Homo sapiens: one gene and its partners. The protein of the gene in region 6 interacts with the protein of the main gene of each other region in a pairwise test. Each region holds a gene or a part of one and is shown on either strand. Other genes may lie near its edges.

The links.
Region 1: the proteins of ARRB1 (region 6) and ZRANB2 interact in binary tests that used the Homo sapiens proteins (3 or more experiments, as listed by UniProt).
Region 2: the proteins of ARRB1 (region 6) and SASH1 interact in a two-hybrid assay, tested with the Homo sapiens proteins (one large-scale study listed by BioGRID).
Region 3: the proteins of ARRB1 (region 6) and NEK6 interact in a two-hybrid assay, tested with the Homo sapiens proteins (one large-scale study listed by BioGRID and IntAct).
Region 4: the proteins of ARRB1 (region 6) and GPR50 come close enough for resonance energy transfer, tested with the Homo sapiens proteins (one study listed by BioGRID).
Region 5: the proteins of ARRB1 (region 6) and STK38 interact in binary tests that used the Homo sapiens proteins (3 or more experiments, as listed by UniProt).
Region 7: the proteins of ARRB1 (region 6) and BRAF interact in a protein complementation assay, tested with the Homo sapiens proteins (one large-scale study listed by IntAct).

What each region holds. Positions count from the first base shown.
Region 1 is NC_000001.11:71,071,036-71,074,535, reverse strand, and holds part of ZRANB2 (zinc finger Ran-binding domain-containing protein 2), read left to right. Parts: intron 1-1,987; coding exon 1,988-2,064; intron 2,065-2,280; coding exon 2,281-2,415; intron 2,416-3,500. UniProt on the Homo sapiens protein: Splice factor required for alternative splicing of TRA2B/SFRS10 transcripts. Binds to ssRNA containing the consensus sequence 5'-AGGUAA-3'. May interfere with constitutive 5'-splice site selection.
Region 2 is NC_000006.12:148,541,838-148,545,337, forward strand, and holds part of SASH1 (SAM and SH3 domain-containing protein 1), read left to right. Parts: intron 1-1,842; coding exon 1,843-2,981; intron 2,982-3,500. UniProt on the Homo sapiens protein: Is a positive regulator of NF-kappa-B signaling downstream of TLR4 activation. It acts as a scaffold molecule to assemble a molecular complex that includes TRAF6, MAP3K7, CHUK and IKBKB, thereby facilitating NF-kappa-B signaling activation.
Region 3 is NC_000009.12:124,309,949-124,313,448, forward strand, and holds part of NEK6 (serine/threonine-protein kinase Nek6), read left to right. Parts: intron 1-2,560; coding exon 2,561-2,701; intron 2,702-3,500. UniProt on the Homo sapiens protein: Protein kinase which plays an important role in mitotic cell cycle progression. Required for chromosome segregation at metaphase-anaphase transition, robust mitotic spindle formation and cytokinesis.
Region 4 is NC_000023.11:151,175,162-151,179,383, reverse strand, and holds the start of GPR50 (melatonin-related receptor), read right to left. Parts: upstream 2,801-4,222; 5' UTR 2,663-2,800; coding exon 2,476-2,662; intron 2,008-2,475; exon of another isoform or gene 1,548-2,007; intron 1-1,547. UniProt on the Homo sapiens protein: G protein-coupled receptor that plays a role in numerous physiological processes including regulation of energy metabolism, neurite outgrowth or cell migration.
Region 5 is NC_000006.12:36,523,480-36,526,979, reverse strand, and holds part of STK38 (serine/threonine-protein kinase 38), read left to right. Parts: intron 1-1,337; coding exon 1,338-1,389; intron 1,390-2,516; coding exon 2,517-2,639; intron 2,640-3,500. UniProt on the Homo sapiens protein: Serine/threonine-protein kinase that acts as a negative regulator of MAP3K1/2 signaling. Converts MAP3K2 from its phosphorylated form to its non-phosphorylated form and inhibits autophosphorylation of MAP3K2.
Region 6 is NC_000011.10:75,345,162-75,348,661, reverse strand, and holds part of ARRB1 (beta-arrestin-1), read left to right. Parts: intron 1-3,500. UniProt on the Homo sapiens protein: Functions in regulating agonist-mediated G-protein coupled receptor (GPCR) signaling by mediating both receptor desensitization and resensitization processes.
Region 7 is NC_000007.14:140,918,430-140,921,929, reverse strand, and holds part of BRAF (serine/threonine-protein kinase B-raf), read left to right. Parts: intron 1-3,500. UniProt on the Homo sapiens protein: Protein kinase involved in the transduction of mitogenic signals from the cell membrane to the nucleus. Phosphorylates MAP2K1, and thereby activates the MAP kinase signal transduction pathway. Phosphorylates PFKFB2.

The DNA of each region.
Region 1 (3,500 bases), on a different chromosome or scaffold from region 6:
GTTTTCCTGTTAGTGCCTTAGTTCTTCCTTTGAAGTACATGTTATATTCATCCCCCTTTCCCGCTTTTTTTCCATTGTCACAATCTTGATCCAAACATTCATTTTAAACCTGTGTTTGATTCTTTCTTGGCCCTTGCTCAGCTTTTTACATTATACTGTGAGACAAATTTGAAAATATATTCATTGTAAGACTTACTAAAATCTACGGAAATTCTTGGTTGCTTTCTAAAGCTTTCCATAGAAATTCAAATTCATTAGATGATTCCAGAATTGTGTTTTCTGTATTCATTCCTTGAAGACATTTATAGGCCACTGTGCAAGGTGCTGGGGATACCTAGGTGAGCAAAAGAGTCTTACAGCACCAAAGATTAATGAAGTCCTCTTTAGGAAAGCTATGCTTAAGCTAAGAAGTGAAAGATGAGTTACCTGAGTAATGGATTAAACACTCTTCTTTCTGTTTGTGGAGAAGTAATTAGGAGAGGTGGCGGCAAGAGTGGAAATAAAACCAATTTATACAGCATTATCTGAAGTGCTTGAAATTAGTAGAATGACGGAAACATACATATCATTCCATTGATTCCACTATCTCAGGTATTCAGTGAAAATGGTATGCTTCAGTTTTTTCACGATAGGGAGCTAGTGTATTTTCCATTTATACAGAGTTAATGAGCTAGATTTATATTGTATGGGTTCATAGAACATACCAATGTCTTTGTTGTCAGCAGACTATTTTGCTGCCTCTTAAAATAATTTTATTTACATACTTTTGAAAAATTAACTACTAGAGTTATAGTTCACTTTCTAATTTTACTATATTTTTGAGCTTTCCATATTTGTCATATTACTTTTCAGTTTTTTCCTATGTAAATTATTTCCAATTTAGATCCCACGTATGTTTAAAAATATTTTTATTAACTTCCAAGTATTTTGAAGTTTTCACTAGTACAAAGTATAATGAAGAAAAGATGCTATATTAGTGTGGGTTTTTTTCAGAAAGTGAAATTTTAAAAATATTTTTTTAAATATGATAGGCAAATTTTAAGTTACAAGTCCTAATTTTTATAAAATATTTTTATTATAAATCTATTTAATATTTTGCTGATGAATGAAGTCCCTAAGTCTGGAAATCACCGGCCTTATTGTACTGATACTGCTCTGGAGTATGTGACCAGTTAGATTGTATTACTCTTGATCAACACATACCTCTTTAATTTTCAATGGGAGACTTTTTCAAAATATGTCAACTCACTTTTCCTAAAACTAGCTCATTTTCTTTAATTCCAGTCTCTCCTTTAAGCTTATGTCAGAGACCTGCCAATTGAATTGTATACATTGGTTGTGACATGAGAGAATAGTGGTTTGCTAATCTCAACTACTTTTTAATAGAATCATTTAATTTCAAAATTTACTGGCTACTTCAGAGAACCTGTGTGACTTTTACCTATGTGTTAAAACCAATTAAACCAGGGCCAAAGGATGGCCTTTATTGTGTTATTGTGTTTGTCTGTGTAATTAGGAATTTTCCAAGCTCTAATAAGGCCTGCTACATTTTAAAGTAGCAAAATTTCAGAATATCAGAAGATTTCAGACTATTTGCAGTTGGTAAACAGTGGAATTTAATGCTTGGTTGTTACTGAGCCCACCCTTCCCAGAAGAATTACGATTAACTGTAGAGGAAAGTCCTTTAAAACTTGGTTATAGCAGAAGTTTGAGATGTTTTCCACCAATACTTTCTATGAATTAAATAAGTCATGTAGGGCAATTTGGAATTGAAAAGAGCTAGAAGTACAGCCATATGACGTTACAACTAAGTTCTCTGTATTTTCTGTGGTGATTTCTAATATGCTTTCTAAAGACTAGTAATTTATTAGATGGGTAGGCAGCCATTGTTGATTAGATGTTTTTTGTTGTCTGGAGATTTGGGCATGATGTGTTTATTATTTAAATCAATTGTCATAGGGTAACAATTTGTGCCCTCTTTTTTAAGGATATGGTGGTGGTTTTAATGAAAGAGAAAATGTTGAATATATAGAAAGAGAAGAATCTGATGGTGAATATGATGAGGTAAGCTATATTTTGGTGTTCAGGTTGAATATAAATTAGAAAAACAGAAAAAATTCTTAAATGCAAAGGAAAACAAACTTTTTTTTAAGTGCAATTTGAGTCTTCAGCAACTGATCATTTTCAGGAAATCATAAATATCTAAAATAATTTTTTAGAAAATGTATTAAGTTTAATGCATTATCAGCTGACAAGCATTTTGAAATTGTTTTTCTCTAGTTTGGACGTAAAAAGAAAAAATACAGAGGGAAAGCAGTTGGTCCTGCATCTATATTAAAGGAAGTTGAAGATAAAGAATCAGAGGGAGAAGAAGAGGATGAGGATGAAGATCTTTCTAAATATAAGTTAGATGAGGTGAACAATTTTCTTGTCCTATTTCCCTTTTGTCTTATTGGAGTTATACCATAACATGAATGCTTTTGACAGCCTCAGACACTTGGTGAAAATATATTCTGTGTTTTCATTTGTTCTCACAAAGGTTTTGGATTTCCACTCTGCCAAGTACTATTTGTACTTGGAACACTACTGTTCTGGAGATACAGTGGTGACCGAAACAGAACCAGTTTTCTCTTACACAGTTCTAGAGGAGGAAATATATAAATAGGTAATTTTGATAGCAGTAACGTTATGAAGACACATGATGTGATAACAGTTTAAAAGCAACTTTGGTTTTGCCGATGGATAATGTCTAAGGAGGTGAAGTTTGAGCTGAAACTTGAATGATAGGAAGGAGCCAGCAATAAGAGCCGAGGTGAGAGCACATTTAGGCAGAGAACAGCAAATACGGGTTCCCTAAATAGGAGATAAGCCAGCAGCCTTCAAAAATACCATACATAGGCCAGTATAGTTAGAGCAGAGGGGAGAATGAGATGAGGGGGACAGCACACATTTCAGGTCTGGTGATACTTGTTCTGTCAGGCCAGAGTGTAAGTTTTATGCCATGTTAAGGGTACCTTAGAGCCTGATCATAAGAGGTCTTGGAATGCAACTAAAGAAATAATAAGCCAGTTTTGAAGTTTTTAAGAAAAAAGTGAGATGTGTTTATCTGTCCTGTGTTTCAGAGTGATGACTGTCAGTATATTGAGATACTAGAGAGGCAGAATGGATCTTCAGATTTGAGGAGACCAGCTAAGAGGTTACTATAATATGCTAGAGAATAAGGAACAGAGTGTCTAAGACTAAAAATGGTGATTTCAAGGACTTTTAAGGAGGTGGACTTGAAAATTCTTGGGTGATGCATAAGTGTGACAGAAAAAGTGTGTATGGCCTCCAGGTTTATGTCTGTGCAATACCTGAGACAAAGTTGTCAAGTCTCTATTTGAGATGAGTTTAGTAGGTGAATTTTAGAATTCAGAATTAATTTGCTGAGATACCTGTGATATATGCATATGGAGGTGCTCAGTACACCTAACTGTTTTATCTTTCCTGGTAGGTAACAC
Region 2 (3,500 bases), on a different chromosome or scaffold from region 6:
AAGGTTTTCTATCAACTTGGGAAGATAGTAGTTCTCCCCAAACTATATATAATATTCAGATAGCCTCGGTCAAGACAGGATGCAAAACTCACCTAGTATCCCAGTACATCCTCAGTTTCAGTAAACATCAGAATCCTTATGTAGCTCATGTAGGTTCTGAAGAATTTTTTTTTCTCTTAATAACCTTTTCATATCCAAAACTTTTCAGGAAATTAATTCCCCCAACTGTTGGTGATTGGTAAGGATCTCACAGATATCACTGGCAGAATTTTTCATGCCCAAATGAATTCAGGTGTACCTGCTGAAGAACTAGATTGCTAGCGAACCATACTTTGAACTCAAAGTAAGTTCAGGGATCTTTCTAATGTAATGCAGAATGCAAAAATGGAACTTATATATATAGTTTTATATTGGGAGTTAAGGGAAAAGAAAGTCATATTTCTAAATTTATGCTAAAGAGGTTCTAATAATTTTCTATTTCAACCCACTTTTAAAATCTGATGCAATTTTTTTTTTCTGAAGAGGTATTTCTTCATTTATCTGTGATGATTTTTCTTTTCTTTTTATGAGGCGGAGTCTCGCTCTGTCGCCCAGGCTGGAGTGCAGTGGCGCGATCTTGGCTCACTGCAAGGTCCACCTCCCGGGTTCATGCCATTCTCCCGCCTCAGCCTCCCGAGTAGCTGGGACTACAGGCGCCTGCCACCATGCCCGGCTAATTTTTTATATTTTTTATGAGAGACGGGGTTTCACCGTGTTAGCCAGGATGGTCTCGATCTCCTGACCTCGTGATCCACCTGCCTTGGCCTCCTTAAGTTGTGATGATTTTTCTAATAATGAAAAGTAGGACCATGGTCAATATCTTCAGTAGTAGCACTAGGCTGATGATCTTTATGTAACAACAATAATATCCTACAAATGCATAGCATGTTGGTGTTTATCAGTGTGGAACATACAGGTGGACAGGGTCAAAGCACACAACAAACATGTTATCAACCAAAAATGTAACAAGGGACAGTGTGTGTGTGTGTGTGTGTGTGTGTGTGCGCGCGCACATGTAAGTACTGATGAGAACAAAGCATTCAGCACATTGTCTGGCCCATGAATTGTAAGTTCTTGGCAAAGCTTATCCAACAGCAGCAGTTTAGTATCAACTACCAGTCGTCAGATAAGTAGATTATGTCTGGTTGATAGTTCAGTTATCAGTCTGGCAGTTGTAACTAGGACTGTTGCTTTGCTGGGACCTAAAACTTTATCAGTATTTTGTAGATTTTCTTTGGCAAAGTACTCACAAAAGTTTACCTGTCTGTGTCCAGGTTGGTTGATTGCTTCTAGGATAAACTTACTAGAAGGAGGGGCTTCAGGGAAGGTGGGATTTGAGTATTCACAGATCACTCTGTAGGGGATACCATTTATAGAACCTGTTGTGAAATTCAGTCCAGCTCTCCTTTTCCATCATGACCTTGAGAAATTGTACTCACCCAACAAATCTCATCAATATGCGGTATGATGATCAGCCTCTTTCCACGTCGATTGCAGTGGGGCACAGACTTAAGCCAAGATTTATTTTACTGCTTGACACAGCGTATTTCTTTCCCATGTAACCCAATTAATTTCAGTCTTCATGATTCCTTTAATAAGACTAAGAATTCTTTCTAAAAATAAAAATGGAACCATAATAACCCTCTATCACCCGATGTCATAAATGGTGATTTTATGTTTTTAGTGTAATTGAACAATAGGATGTGGGTGTTGGAGATTTCAATTATGTTAGCACAACTTTATGCATCCGTTTGATTGATTTGCTTTTAAAATGTGATTGTAAAATATTCCCTTGTCTCACAGGCAAGACTCGGAAAGCTAGCCTCCTATCTGCCAAGTCATCCACCGAGCCCAGCTTGAAGTCTTTTAGCAGAAACCAGTTGGGCAATTACCCAACATTGCCTTTAATGAAATCAGGGGATGCACTGAAGCAGGGACAGGAGGAGGGCAGGCTGGGTGGTGGCCTTGCCCCAGACACGTCCAAGAGCTGTGACCCACCTGGTGTGACTGGTTTGAATAAAAACCGAAGAAGCCTCCCAGTTTCCATCTGCCGGAGCTGTGAGACCCTGGAGGGCCCCCAGACTGTGGACACTTGGCCCCGATCCCATTCCCTGGATGACCTTCAAGTGGAGCCTGGTGCTGAGCAAGACGTGCCTACCGAGGTGACAGAACCGCCCCCTCAGATTGTACCTGAAGTGCCACAGAAGACGACCGCCTCTTCCACGAAGGCCCAGCCCCTGGAGCAAGACTCTGCTGTCGACAATGCATTGCTACTGACCCAAAGCAAGAGATTTTCTGAACCTCAGAAATTGACAACTAAGAAACTGGAGGGCTCAATCGCAGCCTCTGGTCGCGGCCTGTCACCCCCTCAGTGTTTGCCCAGAAACTATGATGCTCAGCCTCCTGGAGCTAAACACGGTTTAGCAAGGACGCCTCTGGAGGGCCACAGAAAAGGACACGAGTTTGAAGGAACACACCATCCCCTGGGCACCAAAGAAGGGGTAGATGCTGAGCAGAGAATGCAGCCCAAAATTCCATCACAGCCTCCACCTGTTCCTGCCAAAAAGAGCAGAGAACGCCTTGCTAACGGACTCCACCCTGTTCCCATGGGCCCCAGTGGGGCCCTCCCCAGTCCCGATGCGCCATGCCTGCCAGTGAAAAGGGGCAGCCCCGCCAGCCCCACCAGCCCTAGCGACTGTCCCCCAGCACTGGCTCCCAGGCCTCTCTCAGGGCAGGCGCCTGGCAGCCCACCAAGCACAAGGCCGCCCCCCTGGCTCTCAGAGCTCCCCGAGAACACAAGCCTCCAGGAGCACGGTGTGAAGCTGGGCCCGGCTTTGACCAGGAAGGTCTCCTGTGCCCGGGGAGTGGATCTAGAAACGCTCACTGAAAACAAGCTGCACGCTGAAGGCATCGATCTCACGGAGGAGCCGTATTCTGATAAGGTATCAAAGGTCCTGGGCCCACCACGTTCACAGGCCTTTGTTTGTAGAAGTCAGGCAGCCAGGTGAGATGAACCCACATCTGAAGCCAGCCCGGTAGCCCGCCCAGTGGACAGGAGACACCTGAATCCACGTGTCCACACCTTACTTGACATGCATGTGTTCAGATATTGACACCACCCCATTTCATCTCTCCGTAGGTAAACCGAGGTTAAAAATAACCTGCATGAAGACCTCTTAGAGGGATTACTAGGAGCAAATAAAATAAATGTGGACAAAAGAACCCTATTCAGATGTGATAATTGTATTATACAGTTATCTGTATGGGTAATGGGAAAAAGATAATATAAAATCCCCCATTGTACCAAAAACATTTAGCTGTATAATGAAAAATTATTTCTCATTCAAAAAAAATGAGATCTACCAATACCAAGTGACTCCAAAGACAAAGCAATGCTAACAGATACAGCAGTACTTTACTCCTGGAAATACAGGTCCTATTAGGATGCATTCCTGAGAGTC
Region 3 (3,500 bases), on a different chromosome or scaffold from region 6:
TTTTGAAGAGGCCGGTGGCGGGTCCTGGGGCGGGGCCTGGGGCAGGGCTCAGGTGACTGAAAGAATGGAGGCTGGAGCAGGAAGTGGCAGGCCTGGCCGGTCAGGGGGTCTTGAGTGAAAAGCCGAGGAGGGATCTGAGCTGAGAGCCCACCCGATACGGAGCAAGAGCTTGGGCACCACAGTCCCCAGTCCTGGGGTCACACCCCAGCTCTGCTGTTCTTTGCTGCCTGATCAGAACAGGTCACTGCTACCCCTCCAAGCCTCAGATTCCTGAAATGGGGACAGCAGTGAGGCCCACTCACAGGGTTGTTCTGAGGACCCAAAGAGTGGGCGCGTGGGCGGTGTCTGCACAGAGCCCAGCATGCAGTAGACACTCAGGATGCCTGCTCTTCTTAGGTGGGTGCTCTGTGTACAGGTGTATTTACCCGACAGACATTGGCACATGGTGGATAAAATCATCATCTTCCTCCTCCAGCAGCCCTCCAGATCGGGTCCTCTGGCAGGACCCACCATGAGAGGTAATTAGGCCTCGAGGCTTCAAAGTCAAGGTTGGCCCAGCCCTCACCTTGCTGTGTGCTGTGAGGCCTGGACTCCCATCACTCACTCCCGCAGGAGGGTGTTCTGTAGAGTTCCCTCAGCCAAATCTGGAAGAGACATTTTCTTTTTTTTGAGATGGAGTCTCACCGTCACCCAGGCTGGAGTGCAGTAGCACGATCTAGGCCAACTGCAACCTCCGCCTCCCAGGTTCAAGCAATTCTCCTGCCTCGGCCTCCCAAATGGCTGGGATTTACAGGCACCCACCACCACACCCGGCTAATTTTTGTGTTTTTACAAAAATTTTTTGGCCAGGCTGGTCTCAAACTCCTGACCTTAAGTGATCGCCCGCCTCGGCCTCCCACAGTGCTGGGATTACAGGCGTGAGCCACTGCGCCTGGCCTAGAAGAGACATTTTCACTTTACTTTTTTCCCTGCTTTTCCAGTGAGTTTCTATTATTCATTAAGTCATGATTCAGGGTCCCAGAGTAGGGATCACCACATAACCAGGTTCCCCTCAGGCACTCTGGGAGAAGGACAGAGGAGAAGTTGATGGACCCAGCTTAGACCTGCCCAGGAGACGTGCCCCTGCTCCGCAGGCATCTCAGGCTGAGACGCAGCTGGTCCGGCCAGCAGTTCCTGGTGTTTCCAGGTGGGGAAGCAGCTGTCAGAAGGGCCAGTCCTGTAGTTCTCGGTTTGGTCTTGATGCCTTCCGCCAGGGTGCTGGCTCCTAAAGACGCCTCGGTACGGTGCCCGGCTCAGTGTGACCCTCACCAAAGACCCACTTCATGCTAGAAAGTTGAACTGCTTGTTCTGGCTTCACTAGGGGCGGTGGCATGGAGCTGGGTGATGTGGGCATGGCTGGCCCCTCTGGGCCTCAGTTTCCTCATCAGGCAAATGGAGACACAGCCGGGCCCATCTCACCATAGGGCAGGCCAGAGATGTGGCATCCTCTCCCCTTGTCTGTCTCCTCCTTCCCTGGCCCACTGTTGGCGCCCCCTCCTGCCTTTTCCTGAGAGCTCACTGCACAGGTGTCCTGGGGTCCTCCTGGCCACTGTGGTCTCACCTGGAGGCTCCATCCCTGGGCAGGTCCTAGCGCAGGATCATGTGTTCCAATGCTGGCCCCTGCAGAGTCTTTGTGGAGCTCTGGTTTCTTCACGACACCCTAAAAAAGGCAGTTTATCTAAAGGATGGGCTCAGGGTGTAAGGCTGCACATTTTTTTGAGAGGGGGACAGAGTCTCCATCACCCAGGCTGGAGTGCAGTGGCATGATCTCTGCTCACTGCAACCTCTGCCTCCTGGGTTCAAGCGATTCTCATGCCTCAGCCTCCTGAGTAGCTGGAATTATAGGCATGGGCCACCACACCCAGCTAATTTTTATATTTTTAGTGGAGACAGGGTTTCGCCATGTTGGCCAGGCTGGTCTCGAACTCCTGACCTCTCGAACTCCCGCCTCAGCTCCCAAAATGCTGGGATTACAGGCGTGAGCCACCACACCTGGCCAAGGCTATGAATATTAACCTTGGTTTTCTTGTCTGAGATGGGGAACGGCTGCCCCAGGAAGGGAACTTGCCATTTCTTATGATGACCTGGGGCATTTTGCATGGTGGCCACGGGCTGGGGATACATGAGCTGCACCCGGCTTACCGGACCCCAGTTTGGGCATCAAGGATTCAGGAGAGGATGAGACGGGCAACGCCCGTGGTCCCACGGAGCTAGCCCCCAGGGATGGGACTCAGAGACAGCAAACAAACAAGCAGTCAGACAATGAAGGTGGTGATGAGGGCAGTGGGGAGCATGAACAGCCTCAGTTTTTCACCTGCACTGGGGGTCCTTGAGGGGACCCAGGGGACCCTGTGCAGAAAGCCCCCTGGGGGGGTGCCTGGGAGGCTCCCAGAGCAGGGTTGGCAGCAGAGTCCCTCCTTCACCTTAGAGGGTGCTGTTGGGGTGCTGGGCCTCTAGGGGTCGTCCCCAGGCCTCTGCTGCAGCCTGGCTGCTCACGGAGGCCCTCTGTCCCCCGTTCCAGAGGCATCCCAACACGCTGTCTTTTCGCTGCTCGCTGGCGGACTTCCAGATCGAAAAGAAGATAGGCCGAGGACAGTTCAGCGAGGTGTACAAGGCCACCTGCCTGCTGGACAGGAAGACAGTGGCTCTGAAGAAGGTGCAGGTGAGCTGACAACCCGTGGGGTCAAACCTGCATCTCGGGAGGTGGTCTCTGCATCTGGACGGGGTGCCCGGGCCAGTCCCTTCTCTCCCCTCTTCTGTGAACGAGGGAAACAGCACTCAACTCACTGGGTTACAGAGAGAACCAGGTGGACTCCTATTGATGAAAGTTCACTGTGAACTGCAAAGGAAAAGAAAAACGAGCATGCATTGAGCGCCTGCTGTGTACTGGGTCATGCAAGGAGCACATGGAGCCTCTCAACAGTCCCGTGGGTGGGGATTGTCATTTCATCTCTCAGATGAGGAAAATCTCATAACCGCCAGGGCCCCAGCATGAGTCTTGGGGGAGCTGAGGTTCATACCATGTCCACCCATCCTTGCGCCTGCGGTTGCTCCACAGTTCTGGGCTTCCTGCCTTCTGCGTCCCTCCTAAATGGAGGAAGTAGGTCAAGCGGCAAAGTCAGGACAGGAGCCATGTCCATGAGAGCCGCTGGGCCCGTCTGAACACAGCTTTGCCGGAGGAAATGGCTTTAAATCCTCCAGCAAAGCTTCCCAAGCCCCTTGATTTGCTTACTTGTCCTTAAAGAACAAGATTGAGAGCCTGGGCAGAGGAGGGCCGGGAGAGAGAATGGCGTTGGGGAAATGGGGAGAGAACACCCGCAGCTTCAGGGCGCTGGAGGAGTAGCAGGGTCCTCTCTGTCCAAAAAAGGACCAGTTTCTCTCTTGATCTTGTTTTTTTTTTGAGATAGAGTCTCAGTCTATCACCCAGGCTGTAGTGCAGTGGCGTGATCAGCTCACTGCAA
Region 4 (4,222 bases), on a different chromosome or scaffold from region 6:
AAGCCTCAAACTAAAAAAATTAAAAATAATTAAATAATTAGAAAAAGATAAATTAGCCATCTCCCTCCTATAGCCTAGCATTGCATTTATAATAAACACATTACTAGAGAGAAGATTCTGAGAAAAGGCATTAGAGGCCATCTTCTTAAACAGTCTTTTCCGATGGGATCAAGCAGTAACCTAAAACCTTGCCAAGTCAAATACTTACCGTTCCGAGGTAACCTAAGAGTGAAAACTGAGGGGAAGCAGGGAAGCCCTGTAAAATTTAGTCTGAGACCAAAGAAGTAGTGAGAGGGCGGGCGGGAAGGGTGGCGCGAGGTGGGCGGGGGTGGGGGGGAGGAGAAAAAATCCTGCAAGGATTAGCAGAAGTGCCTGTTTCAGTTACATGCCGCGTCCACGTCCACGCGCAGAGCCGCGCACTGGCACATTCAGCGCCCTGCACAGAGCTCCCAGCGCCGGGCACTGAACTTTACTGGAGCCTTCAGGTTAAACAGGATAGAGAAGAAGGGTCACCCCCACTCCGGTCTTGTAGGGCTGAGGTGGGAACTTTTTTGTAAAACCTTTCACAAAAAAGAGAAGGAAGAGGCCAGGTGCAGGCGCAGAGCCCTCTTTCTTTGGAGACACCTCGTTGCTAATTAGCATTGGTTTGGCAAAATATTGCACTTCATCTTGGACTAGGAGAAAATGAGCGCTTTTGAAAAGGGCAAAGGTATGGCTCCTTCTTCCTCCTTCCTCCAGCGCTGTCAGCACTCGGCCTCAGCACTTTCTACCGAAGAGGTTCTTTCTATGGTTTTCCGGCAGAGTAATGAATTCAGGGAAATACAGCCGAAAAGAGAAGGGGCAAAGCCTTAAAAACAAAACCACAACAACCATAAAAGCCTTTATTTGAATTATAGAAGGAAGGAAGGAGAAGGAGAAAAAGAAAGAAAAGAAATCTAAAGGGAATAAAATGGGCTTCGCAGGTCGCCCCCAGGATTCCGTGGGTTTGCACCTCGGGACCGCACCGCGGGGGTGAAGGTGAAGACCTAGTGTATGGCCCCACGATTCCAGGAGACGAAGGAGAAATCGGAGACACCCACCAGACTTTGTAAGAAAACTTTTAATGACTGTGTGCCAGTCAGTGCGTTTTTAAACTTGTTCAGTGTTCGTGACTCCTTGCCCAAGCAAAGTAATCCCCCAGACCCCGGCCGCCACCTCTCCCCCACGCCCTGCCCGGGAGAATCCAGCTGGTCTCCCCACCCTCTCAGACCCCCTTCGGTCCCCACTCCTAGCCCCAGCCGATCGAGAATCTGGCGGTGGAAATTCCAGGCGCCGCCCCTCCCTCCCCCGGCCTGAACTCGGAGTTTGGGCGCCTTTGCCCCTTCCCCTCCCTTCCAGAGCCCTCTCCCGCCCAACCTGTAAGCCGGACTAGCTGCTCTGCAGTGTCTGCCGCCCCCACCCCCAGCACAGGTCGCAGCGCCCGGCATCCTCCCACGCTTCCCTCCTGCCCTGCTCGCCGCCGGCCCCCGGCCCCCGGCCTCCTCCCGCTCGGCAGTGGCTAGCAGCGGGGGAAGTCCCGCCTGCGGCTCCCAGACCCCAGCCCTTTGCAGCCTCTCTGAGTCCCCCATCGCCGCCTCTGAGCTCTCCCGTCGCCCTCCCGCCAATCCCTACTCGGTTTTGCTGCCTTCTATCCCTCCACCCCCAGCAACGCCCAGCTCCCAAGCCTCTTGGCCGGCCCGCCCTGCGACCCCCCAGTTCCCCGCTTACGGACCTTGGGATCTCCGCTGCCGCCGCCGTCGCTGCCACCGCCTGCTGTGCCCGACCCGCCGCTTGCCTCTCTCTGCCGTTCGCCCTGGGACGGGCGGACGGAGCTCGGCTCCGGCGGGCTCAGACCTCCCTGCTCGATTCTCGGGCGCGGGGGTCTGTGCTCCGCCGCCCGGGATCTGCCCGGGAGCCGTCCTGGAGCCCCAGGGCCGCGGCGAGCGGGCTCTTGGCCCGGCTAGGGAGAGGCCACTGCGTTGCGCTCTGGTAAGGGCCGCCGCGGCCGCCGCGAACTTAACTTTCACAGAGCAGGTCGCAGCCCCGCTGCTCCCTCCGCGTCAGTTCGGTCCGCGCTGCCTCAGCGCGGCCGCCCTTGCGGCGTCCGGCTCGGCTTGCTGTCCCCGGGCGAATCGCCTGACTCTCCCGCTCGGGTGCCGGCTCCCTCCGCATCAGGCCCCGACGGGACAGGGATCCTCGGGCTGCCGCGCACCACGGGAACGCTTTGTACTTGGATGCCCAAAGCTAATTCTCTGTGCTCTCTCGGCCTTGAGAACCTCCACGTTTAGAGGGCCGGGACAGAATACTACCACCCCCAGGCTTGCGGGGAATTTGGGAGCAGGGATGTTCAATATGAGGGCACTGTCCATAGATTCTCTATTCGGGGAGCTCAAAAACTAACGCCCTAGGGGTTGCAAGTCTCTGCACACTGGGTAGGGAGAAGAAGGGGTGGCTTACCAGAATTCCGGAGCTTCTTGTTCTTCGTCACAGCCAAAATGACCATGGAGTTGCCGATTAGGTCTACAACGATGGTGATAACCATCGCGCAGAACATAAAGATGATTAGAGCCGGTGGGTATTCTGGCTGGGGTAGCTTACAGCCAATACAGCCATAGGGGGTGGGAACCGCTAGGGTGGGCCCCATGTTGCTCCTGGGGATCGTTAAGATCTCCCAGCAGGCTCAGGATCAGCAGCCAGGTCCAGACAGCAAACACCTGTTCTGTCACCAGGAGCTCCAGGAAAGCGTGCCTCCCTCTCTGAGAGTCAGAGAGCAAATGACAGCATCCCGCCCCTCTCCGATGAGCTTTTAAAGCCTCAAGAGGCGGCTAGCCCCACCCCAAATCCCTCCCCCCGACCAATCAGACCTCCCTGAATACCCCCCCCTTGGCTACCCCCTCTTATTGGACAAATCCACATTGAGGTGTCATCTTGCTTCCGACTGCCTTGTATGTACTTCCTCTCTAGCCAGCCTGCCCTGCCTCTCAATCTCCCAGGTACCTTGCAAGCATCATGACTAGCTCGGAGTCCACCCCACACCCCCTCCACCAGCCCCTGTGCATTCGTTTCTAGCAAGTTCTTCTCCCTCTCTCCTCCAGTGCAAACACCTGGCAAAGAGATGTAGATTGCAGAGCCGGAGCACAGAGTCTTTCATAGGATCCAGTGCTAGACCAAGCCAGTCCACAGCCCCCAGCAGGGTATAGGGGATAGCCGGTGGCCCCTTGAACGCTAGATGCTTGCCTCTGCAAGTATCCTTGTGAGGTCCATCCCACGCCCCATGCCCTTGCCTGTCTAGAGCCTTCTGTGTCCCGCGGGGAACAGGGGACTACTGCTGGGAGCTCCCACCCCCAATCTGGGTCCCTAATCCCTAGGGAACTTAACCCCGCTCCCTTTCTCGCCAGGAGCCTCTTGGCTCCCTTAGCGGCAGCTGCGAGTAGCCGCTCAGTCCGGTCCAGGTCTTGCACTCTCCATAAAGAGATGTACCCTGCGCCCGACTCTGGAAGTGGGGAGCGGGTCTGCACCCTGGGACCTAGGGAAGGCATTGGTGGCCACTCGGTCCTCAGTTTGGGGGCGAACGGGAGCGGGAGCTCGTCTCCTTTCCAGCTGCCGGCAGCCAGGCGGCGGAAGCCAAGGGACGCTTTGGGAAAAAGTAAAACAGGCAATAAAGCTCTTCTCTTGGGTCCCCGCTTCTCAAGGAAACTCAGGACGAGAGGCTCTGACGCCTCTCCCTCTCGGGATGCTCGGCATTCTCTACTGAGCGGCACGGGGCAGTCAGGAAGGCTGAAGGAGCTGCGCCGCAGCCGCGGGAAAGGTGCGGAGGTGTCACGCGGCTAAACCAAGAAGCCTCTGGCTGACCGGCGATCCCTGCCTCAGTCAGGATTCCTCTCGGTCTTTCTCCTTTCCCATGCCCTTCTGGGGTTCTCGTTTCGACCCCATCCCTCTCAGGCCTCCCCCCTCGCCCTCCACACCGCGGATCTCTGTCCCCGTGCGTCACAGTTCCCCTGCGGTGCGCCCAGGATCTCGCTCCGCGGGGACCACGGAAAATTCGAATATTCGGGCAAAACTAAAGGGGCGTGATTCGGACACTCGTTCCCTCAATAACCTTGGTCACGGGAATGGATTTCTGCCGGCTACTAAAAGTTACGGCTCCTGTCGAGAAGCCTTTCAAAATCTCAGTAAACACCTTGAAACTTGTTCCAGACTAGTC
Region 5 (3,500 bases), on a different chromosome or scaffold from region 6:
ATTTATGATCCACCCTCCTCAGCCTCCCAAAGTGCTGGGATTACAGGCGTGAGCCACCACGCCCGGCCTTTTTGTTTTTTTTGAGACAGGGTCTCACTCTGTCACCCAGGCTGGAGTGCAGTGAGTGGTGTGATCTCTGCTCACTGCAGCCTCCACCTCCTGGGTTCAAGTGATTCTCCTGTCTCAGCTTCCCAAGTAGCTGGGATTACAGGGTATGCCACCATGCCTGGCTAATTTTTGCATTTTTAGTACAGACCAGGTTTCACCATGTTGGCCAGTCTGGTCTCGAACTCCTGACATCAAGTGATCCACCCGCCTCGGCCTCCCAAAGTGTTGGGGTTACAGGCGTGAGCCACTGCACCTGGCCTAATTTTTATATTTTTAGTAGAGATGGGGTTTCACCATGTTGGCCAGGCTGGTCTTGGACTCCTGACCTCAAGTGACCCATCTGCCTCACCTCCCAAAGTGCTGGGATCACAGGCGTGAGCTACCACACCCAGCCTGATATATGGAGTTTTGATAGTGGTGCCAGTCACCTTTTTGATCACTTTTTCCCCTTAAATTTCCAAATTCTGCTTTTAACTTTGTTGTTTGTTACCCTTTCCTCATGGCAGGGAAGAGGAGGAAGATGCAGAAATAAAGGAAGTAGACTTCAGTCAGAGAGAGGGAAAGAAACAGCATGATATAAGAGTTTATCAAATACCAGCTGTTTTGTGGTTTGGTAAGGAGGAAATAACTGGAAAAAAAAAAAAAAAAAAACACCCAAAACCAAGAGAGGACATTTTTTTGAAACAAGAGTCTTTGTTGCATTAACATCTTAGACAGTCTTTTAAAAAATGTAGACCTAAGGGCGGGGCATGGTGGCTCACACCTGTAATCGCAACACTTTGGAAGGTCAGGCTGGAGTTTGAGACCAGCCTGGGCAATATAATGAGACCTCATTTCTACAAAAAATTTAAAAATTAGCCAGGTATGGTGGCACGCGCCTGTAGTCCTAGCTACTTGGGAGGCTGAGGTGGGATTGCTTGAGCCTGTGAGGTGGAGATTTCAGTGAGCTGAGATTGCGCCACTGCATTCTAGCCTGGGTGACAGAACAAAACTCTGTCTCCTCTCCTCGCAACCTGCCCCCCTCCCCCCGCCAAAAAAAAGTAGGCCTAACAAAGGATGGAAATCTTTTTACTTGTCTTAGTAACTTAATTTTTTTTGTTTTAATGAGACATTTTGAGATTTACCTGTTTGTGTCATTTTTAAAAATCTACTACAGTATTAAGTTACAGAATTTTCAGAAAGTTATCATTCAGATGTGATTTCATGTCTTTTGTTTTTGTTTGTTTTAGACAAAAGAAGTTAGAAAAGGTGATGGAAGAAGAAGGCCTAAAAGATGAGGAGGTAATTAATATTGGCAATGTTTTCCTTAAAACCCAGCGTGGCAGGTTGTATCTTGTCCAGTGAGTTGTTAGCCTTGGTACACATGAGAAGGGTTTTGGCTCAATAACAGAGGAACTTGAGGGGTAGTGTGCTTCCGGATTTGGGTGTTAATTCAGAGGGACAGATTAATTATTAAGTACCTAGGAGAGGAAGGCTTCTCTAGATGCAGTTATAGTAAACTAGATTTAGAATTCCAAGAGAAAGCAGGGATGAAATCAAATTAAATTTTAAAAGAGCAAGTTGTAGCATTTTTATAGAATTCACTGAAAAGTCTCCGTAGGAGTAGGGCAAATTTTTGAAATATTTATTTATTTTACTTTTTCTGGGATACATACGTGTGCTGAACATGCAGGTTTATTACATAGGTATATATGTGCCATAGTGGTTTGCTGCACCTATCAACCTGTCATCTAGGTTTTAAGCTCCGCATGCATGAGGTATTTGTCCTAATGCTCTCCCTCCCTTTCCCCCCATGCCCCGACAGGCCCCGGTGTGTCATGTTCCTGAAATCTTTATTAAGGCAAAATATCCATCTCAAATCAGCCCTTCCACCCAGTGCCCACAGATACAGTAGGAGAAAATATAGTTAACAAGGGACTGTGCAAGGAACTGAAATGGTAGTGGAAATGCCTTCAAAAATAGGACTGGCTTGCAGAACCCAGGACGGTGGTGAAAAATACCCAATACTTGTAGAAATAACAGAAAGTTAGAGTATACAGTGTTTAAGCCAGAGGGAAAGATAAGAACACATTTTTAATTTATATTAAACAGGATAAAGGAAAATATTGTTGATTATTTATCCCTCCCTTCACCAAAAATGTTAGGATAGTGGATTGCTGAAGTAGGTTAGTCAGAGTTCCCAGAGGAGGCACCCATCTGTTCAGTGTGGCTTGGATGTTGTGTCTAAATGCCAGGAAAGGGAGAAGTGACCTCTTAAGGATCCTTCTGGGGTGATTTCATATGTGAAAAGATTATCCTTAGTCCACTTGGACCTGTTTTCTAGCTGGGTAAGTCACAAACATGACTTGTTACAGAGTTTCAGAATTTCAGTTCCTTCCCGTCTCCTCCCTTTTTTATTTAAATATTAGAAACGACTCCGGAGATCAGCACATGCTCGGAAGGAAACAGAGTTTCTTCGTTTGAAGAGAACAAGACTTGGATTGGAAGATTTTGAGTCCTTAAAAGTAATAGGCAGAGGAGCATTTGGTGAGGTAAAAATCACAGCTACTTGTCAAGTAGAAAAATATTGCAAAACTTCAAAGCTTCTAACATACCATTAAGTCATGATTGTTGATATAACAAATATATGGAATTAAATGAGTCAGGCATGCCAGCCCCACATCCTAATTGCTTTGTCTGTCTGCTTTCTCTTTTTCTTCTCTCCGCAGTCCCAGATCTCTGTTCTCTGTTTTGCCAGAGATGGTGTTGGTGTTTAAATATTGACTTAGGGGGAGAGTTGAAAGGTAGAAGGAAATCAACATTTATTATTTACAGGCTGCTTTTTTCCCATAATCAGGACAGTAACCCATTTTATAGATGGTGAAATTAAGACTCTAAAGGTATATATAATGTCTCTTGTTATCACACAGCCATTGAGTACTGGGACCAAAAGTTGGGCTCTACTTCCTGAACTCAAAGAGCTTGCTTTTCCCAGTACTGCACTGCCTCTCGAGAAGGAAACTAATAGTGTATCTCCACCCTTTATTTCTCCCCACCAGATTGATACAGCTCTAAAAAGATGACCCTAGGAGGGAGGATTTACAGAAAGGAGTTATATAGGTAGTGGTGGAGAGTTGAAAGCATTTGCGACTTTGTCCCCGCAATTCTTGGAAATGATCCTGCTTGGGCACAAGAGCAATCTGTTGGGGAGAGCTTGAAAGAGCCCATGCAAGGTCATTCCTGTTAATGAAAAATGCCCAAACTGGATGACCTACTGACGCAATAATTGCAAGTATAAAAGGAGCAGTATATTATTAAAACCTGGTACCCCGGGGCCAGGCACGGTGGCTCACTCCTGTAATCTCAGCACTTTGGGAGGCCAAGGCGGGCGGATCACAAGGTCAGGAGTTCGA
Region 6 (3,500 bases):
CATGCCACTGCACTCCAGCCTGGATGAGAGAGTGAGACCCTGTCTGAAAAAATAAAAAAAAAAAATACCTGGACAGGACTAATCACAGGGCAGGAGTATGATGGTTGCTGCAAGGTGCTCTGGGAACAATCATATATTCATTCAACAAATGTTGATGAGTGCCTTCTGAGTGCCCAGGGCCTGGGGATTCAGCAAGGAAGGAGTCTACTCTGTCCTCCAGGGATTTAGAGCAGAGCAGGTGGTCATAACGCAGGATGACATGTGTTGTGGGAGGCTTAAGGAGAAGTCCCCAACCCAGGCCCAGGCAGGGAGCATGGTACAGGAAGCTCTCCTGGAAAGGAGGTGGCGTTGGAACTACTGAGCTTCATCTGGAAGGATGAATAGGCCAAGGGGGCGGGATTGGGAATGATATTTCTGGCCAAGGGTGCAGAATGTGCAGTGGCTTGGAGGCAGGAAGCAAGGCGTGCAGCCTGGGGCCTGGGCTGGGGATGATAGTGAGCCTTAAGAGGTAAACACAGACCGGTCACCAGCAGTCTGGGAATGTCAGGCTAAGGAGAGAGCATTTTCTCCTGAAGTGGATGGTGATTCAGAGAAGAGTGTGAGGCAGCAGAGGGCTGGAAGCAGATGTTTTCATTTCAGAGAGATGTCTTTGGCAGCGCCAAGTAGGGTGGATGGGAAGAGCAGGCCTAGAAGCAGGAAGACCAGTGAGGAGGCTGGGGAGAAACCTGAGAACTAAGGCTGTGAGCTCTGAACTTAGGCTGCAGAGAGGATAGAGTTGAGAAATATGAATGTGAATAGGAGGTGGAGTCCATCAACCTTGCTGGTCGATTGGACCTTTGCCAGGTATCTGGTGTGTGTTAGAATTACACGCATAATCTCAATGAATTCAACTGTAATCTAGTAGTGTAGTCATTGTTGTCCCCATTTTGCAGATGAGGAAACAGACTAGAAGAGATTAAGTATTTGTTCACTGCCATTCAGCCAGCAAGCATAAGAACCCAGGCCTATTGACCCACAAAGCCCTCTCTGCTACTCGACGCTTTTGCCCAAGAGAGGGGGCCTTGTCTGGCTCACAGTTGGCCTCCCCAGCAGCTCCCAGCCTCAAGTTGTGCGTCCTTTCTGGGCCTTGCCGTTTCCACTTACTCAACAGACAACATGAAGGATCAGATTTAGACAACAGGAGGGACTTCCTGAGAGGCAGTGGTAGGGAATGGAATTTCCTTTCCTGCAGATGAACTCCTCTTTTTTCAGAGAAAGGAGGGTGATGAGGACATGTAATCACCAGCTCTCTGTGAACTTTGGCTGTCATTTCTCTTGGTGGTTAAGCCCTGTGTGACCCATCTTGGCTGGAACATGGGGAAGTCCTGTGGCTTTGGCCAGGGCTGCTCATGGGGCCGCTGGGAGTGGTAGCATCAAGTCTGGCCCACTGTCTCTGATCCCTGATTCCAGGCCGGCCTCTGGGCTTCAGACTTCTCCACTGCTCTCTTCCTTCCAAGTTTGGGCCTCCTTGCCTGAGGCTGACGCCTCCCGTTGGCATGGGTCCAGAGGTCCTGAGTTGTGGGCTTGCCACTTCCAGGGCTTCTGACACTTTGGGTTGGTGGCAGTAGAACAGCAGGCTGGGAGTCAGCACACCCCAAGTGAGGTCCTGGCCTCTACACAGCCATGCTCCGCTACTGCCAGAGTGCCCGCGCCTACCATCTGGCTGAGGCCTGCATGGCTGGGAGCAGCTTGGTGAGGGAGCCAGGGCAGTCTGTTATAGGCTGGACGTAGTGGGGCTTCTGCATAGAAGGGTCTGGATCCTGGGGTAAGAATCAAGGTGCGAGGCAGGGCTTTGGAAATGTGGATGAATGACATCGCATAGGGAGGAGGTATAGAGTATGAAGAGAGGATGATTAGGGACAGCCAGGGCCTTGGAGAGCACCAGTGCCTGGGTATGGAGAGAAGAGGGAGGAAACTGACGGAAGGCCATATTCTTGGAGCCAAAGAAGCAGGGACAGACCCACAGAGGATGAGCTGGAGCGAGACCCCTCAGATTCAGCCAGAAGGCATTAGCTGGTGGCATGGGTTTTGGTGGAGTGGTGAGGGCAAAACTAGGCTACAGCGGGCAGAGAGGAGTGGGAGGGGACCCTGCTTTTCTACATGCCTGGAGCAAGGCTTGAGCCTCTTGGAGGAAGGGCGTGAGGCCCTGGGCTGGGAGCAAGCAGTATGGCGGCAGGCAGTGAAGACTGGGTATGGGAACCTAGGGGTTTTATCTCATCCACCCCCTCCCTCTGCCTTATGTCCAGAGGCAGAAGACCACTGCCCTGTGCTCTCCTTTCAGGCTCAGGCTGAGGGGTTGTGAAGTGTGAGCTGGTCCTGGGGAAGACATGTAATGTGCTGGCTCCAGAAAGGAGGGGCTTCTGACTCAGGTGGGGGACTTGGAGGAAGGCTTCTTTGAAGAGGTGACCCCGGAGCTGGGTGCTGGAGTATGAGAAAGACTTAGGCAGGAGTAAGGTGTTCTAGACAGAAGAAAGAGCCTAGGCCAAGGTGCAGATACTGGCTGCAGGTGTGGGAGTGTGAGGGGTGAGGCTGTGGAGGAAGGGACAGCCTTGGCCAGCAGGTCTTGGATGCTGGAGGGGGTGGTTTCAAGGTACTTTCTTATTCATTCATACCTCAGGCTGAGTGAGCTCCCCATTTGGTAAGCAGCTTGTGGTTCAGGGCTATTTCTGTTTCTCAGTTGATGCTTCCTTACCCACGCTGGGTCTGCTTCCCCAGGAGATGCCTGGCAGAGGTTTGCTGAACTGGACTGAAAATTTTTTTCCCTTCTTGCCTCTGCTATCGGTCCAGGGACTCCCTAAGTGCTGAAATTAGGCCTTTCCCATTAGTGAATCGTAAGACTGAAAGCGATATTTCCCACATTAGGCAAGTTCTCAAAAGAGAGGGGTGGGGTCCTGACTCCTCCATCAGACTGGGAAGTCCTGAGGGACAGGGTTATACCACTCCTATTAGCATGGGGCGCCTGAGCGGGAGGCCTGGGGCTCCCTCATCTGATTGGCTTTTGCAGGTGGGAGCCATGTCTCCCTCCTCAGACTGGAGGCTTCTGAAGGAAGGATGTCTCCTCCATCACACCGGGGGCTCCTGAGGTTGGGGCCTTGTCTCCCATGTGAGCCCTGGGATTAGAACAGGTATCGTCTCAGATGGTCCCTGGGCACCCTGTGTTCTTCCCTCCTATGTGGACAGGATGGTTCCTGTCCCAGGGGTGGCTTGAGTCCTAGTAGGGGGTTGGAGAACAGAGGGGGTTGGCAGGACAGGGTGGCTGCTTTTGAGAGGGTAACAAAGGACTCTGTTGTCCCAGCCCCCTCCCGCCTTCCCTAAGGGGCCCTGGCAGGGTCATCTCTCGGGAGACGCGCCTCCTCCTTCCTGGGACTGGCCCCATCTTTAGCCCCACTTCAGAAGAACTGCTTGTTCCTTCCCAGGAGACCTGGTGCCAGATGAAGCCCCTGGGAGTTGGACAAGACAGG
Region 7 (3,500 bases), on a different chromosome or scaffold from region 6:
CATTCACTTAAAGGGATCTTTTACTGCAAATTACATGGAAAGAATGAAAAGGTTTGCTTGTGTGTAATGACACATTTTATTCTGAAGATTTATTTTACCTAACAGTAAAATGTAGGTTTTTTTTTTTTAAATAAAAGTTTCCCAGAGGGAAATTTCATCTAAAAAAAAAGTCTGATTTCAAAGGGAAAGCAAGTCATTATCAAAAATTAGAAAACTATAAGTACAAAAAGTAAAAAATCATCAGTAATTTTGCCACTAAGATATTATTACTATAGACATTTTGGTGTATTCCATCTGTTCTTTTTTAATGCTTTTATAACACTATGTAGTTTTGTATTTTAAAAAACTTAAAGCAAAAATTTCTACGTATTATTAGACATACTGTGATTTATTTAACTAATCATTTTTTTGGGGTGTTAGGTTGTTTTTAATTTTTTACTGCCATCAAACATCTTGAACATAGGATGTAGATTTTAGTCTTTAAAATATGTTGGGGAATGAACAAATTTCACATCCTGTATTTGTAGTATTAATACTTTGTAGGTGCTCAAAATAGAATATTCTGGTAAATGATTAGTGCTTATTAAATATTTATCAAATGAATGTACTTGTACTTTTGGCATTAAACATTAACATCTGACCATTTATATTTACCTGATTTTTTTTCTATGGCCATATGGTATGAAATAGTGTATGGTATAAATTAACCATATGGTATAATAAATACATTTTTTTAAGTGTGATACCAGAGTGATATTTATTAACTGTTCTTCCTGTGCTGTTTCTGTAGAAGGGAGCTTCTCACAATTGCATTAGAATTACAATTTTATTATGTTCTGTTTTCAAGATCTCTGATCGTCAGTCTTAAACTGTTTAATTATAATAATGTATTGACTAGGGAATATTCTGGGATATAATCTCCTTTATAATGAGGTCCACTGTATTAAAATACATCTTTGCAAGCCACACCAGGTTGGATTGCATCATAACCCTGAAAAGTGGTATTCTCATTAATGCAGGTGCTTGTGCAGTTTTGGCTATTGCTGTTAATACTTATACAGATATATTCACAGGTGCCCTTGTGGCAAAAATCATAAAATAGTTGTTTGTCTTTGGTATTTCTAGTGTTCACTTTCTATATTCTTTTCTCTCTCCTTATTTACTGAACTCCCTTCTTTAGGCATCCACTCACTCCTTTTTCTGTTTAGAATATTATCTGTCAGTCATTTTATATGTTGGCCATTAAAGGAATAAACTGTCAGTAAACAGCTAAGAAAGGAATGTTGGACTGGGTGCTTGAATCCTTGAATGTAGTAAATGTGAGTGCAAACTTGATTTAATTGTACATGTATTTGGATAATAGGCCAGAAAAATTACATTAGGGTAACAGGCTAGAACAGTCTGACTTTTCTTGTTTTTCTATCCCTTGCTTTCTTGATTAGAATGAATAGGAGGTGGGTCTGGATATAGCAGCTGGAAACCTGTGTTCCATGAGTGATGGGGAAGAGAGGGAGGGAATAGGTTCCTCTGATTTTTGGCATTTTCTAAGACCTGATGCCCACCTTGTCAGAGAATGCGATGACTACTTTTGTGTTCTTCCTTTTCCCTTTTTCTCCCAATTATAAAATTGTTTTCTCTTTCAGAACTGCAGAAGTGCATTTTGTTTCTTTGACACTTTGATGTTGTTAATTTAGCTGAATACCTAGTGAACATTTTGTGTCATAATCCCCTTGTTTTATGAAATCCAGTATGGTCTAGTCACCTTACATTTCTGCCTCATATTGTCCTTAAGCCTTTTTTTGTCAGTAGCTCTTACTAGATTTTGTCTTCATCAGAAGTTAAAGTGTTTTAAGTCCTTTACTCATTCTGTTTCTCTATTTTAACTTACATTGGTTATTCTGTAAAGTCAGATGTGGCAGTAGGGCTGGTCGTGGTGGCTCACACCTGTAGTCCCAGCTACTTGGGAAGCTGAGATGGGAGCATCACTTGAGCCCTGAAGTTCGAGGCTGCAGTGAGCCATGATCGCACCACTGCACTCTAGCCTGGCAACAGAGTGAGACCCTGCCTCAAAACAAACAAACAAACAAACAAAAAAAAAACAAAAAAACTTGCTTGTAGAACTTCTGAATTCAAAATAGGTGGGCCTATTTGGGAGCTTTTCTGTTTTTAAGGTGTCAAGTACTGCTTTTTAAAATCATAAGGTTATGGATAACTTCATGTTAGTGTAAGAAGAAAAATATAGCCTCATTTGTTCCATTTCTTTCTTAAATTTTTTGTTTTCATTGCCATGTTTTTATTTTTCGATTTCAATTTTTCCAGCCTAAATCACTAACATACTTAATTAGCATGGTAATCAGAAGATACTCTTTAATACAGTCTCCACCCTAACATTAAGCAATTATTTTTCCCCCCTACCCTCTGAGATTATTTTTGTGTCCATGTTTTCTCTTGGGCTTAAAAAAAAAAACTATTATTCTAATTCCTTCCTGTATCAAGACTATGCATATAGAGGGAACTCAATGCCCAGTAACTTCTTTTTCTGGGCCCTGGTGATGTAGAATATAAAAATTGCTTTGAACTCAATTAACTTTATATCTTCTGGAAGCTCTGTAACATCGGATAAAGCGTCGTTTTCATTCTTGTAATGTAGCTGCAGTTCCTGACAGCACGTTTGGGACAAATGTACTGTGGGACGGTGGTTTTCAAAGTACGCCAGAGCTCTAGGAGAATTTTTCGAAAACATTCTATCATTGTAAATAATAATTTTTTTTTTTTTTTTTTTTGAGACGGAGTCTCGCTCTGTCTCGCAGACTGGAGTGCAGTGGCGCGATCTCAGCTCACTGCAAGCTCTGCCTCCCGGGTTCACGCCTTTCTGCCTTTCTCCTGCCTCAGCCTCCCCAGTAGCTGGGACTACAGGCGCCTGCCACCACGCCCAGCTAATTTTTTGTATTTTTAGTAGAGACGGGGTTTCACCGTGTTGGCCAGGATGGTCTCAATCTCCTGACCTCGTGATCTGCCCGCCTCAGCCTCCCAAAGTGCTGGGATTACAGGCGTGAGCCACCACACCTGGCCAGAATAAAAATTCCAAATTGCACTAATGCATATGTGAAACTGTTTTTGTCTGTTTTGTAGTTTTAAAATCTTCATCTATAATAGTACCTGGCACATAGGTACTAAAATATTTGGTGAAAGAATTAGTGAATAAAACCTTACTGGATATGAGGTGATCTGATTTTCTGTAACATTCTATTCTTTTTTTCTGCCGGTCACAAAATCACCTTATGAAATTGACAGCCAAATTGGCTGCAACAGGCAGTTTGAAAAACACTGTTTTGGGGTTTCAAGGACCTTCTTCAGAGGTTACCCCAGGGCTCTGTTTAGTGCCTCTATACCAGGGGCCCCCAACCCCTGGGCCACAGCCTCGTATCTACCAGTCCGTGACCTGTTAGGAACCTGACTACACCGCAGGAGGTGAGTGGCAGGCAAGTGAGCATTACCGC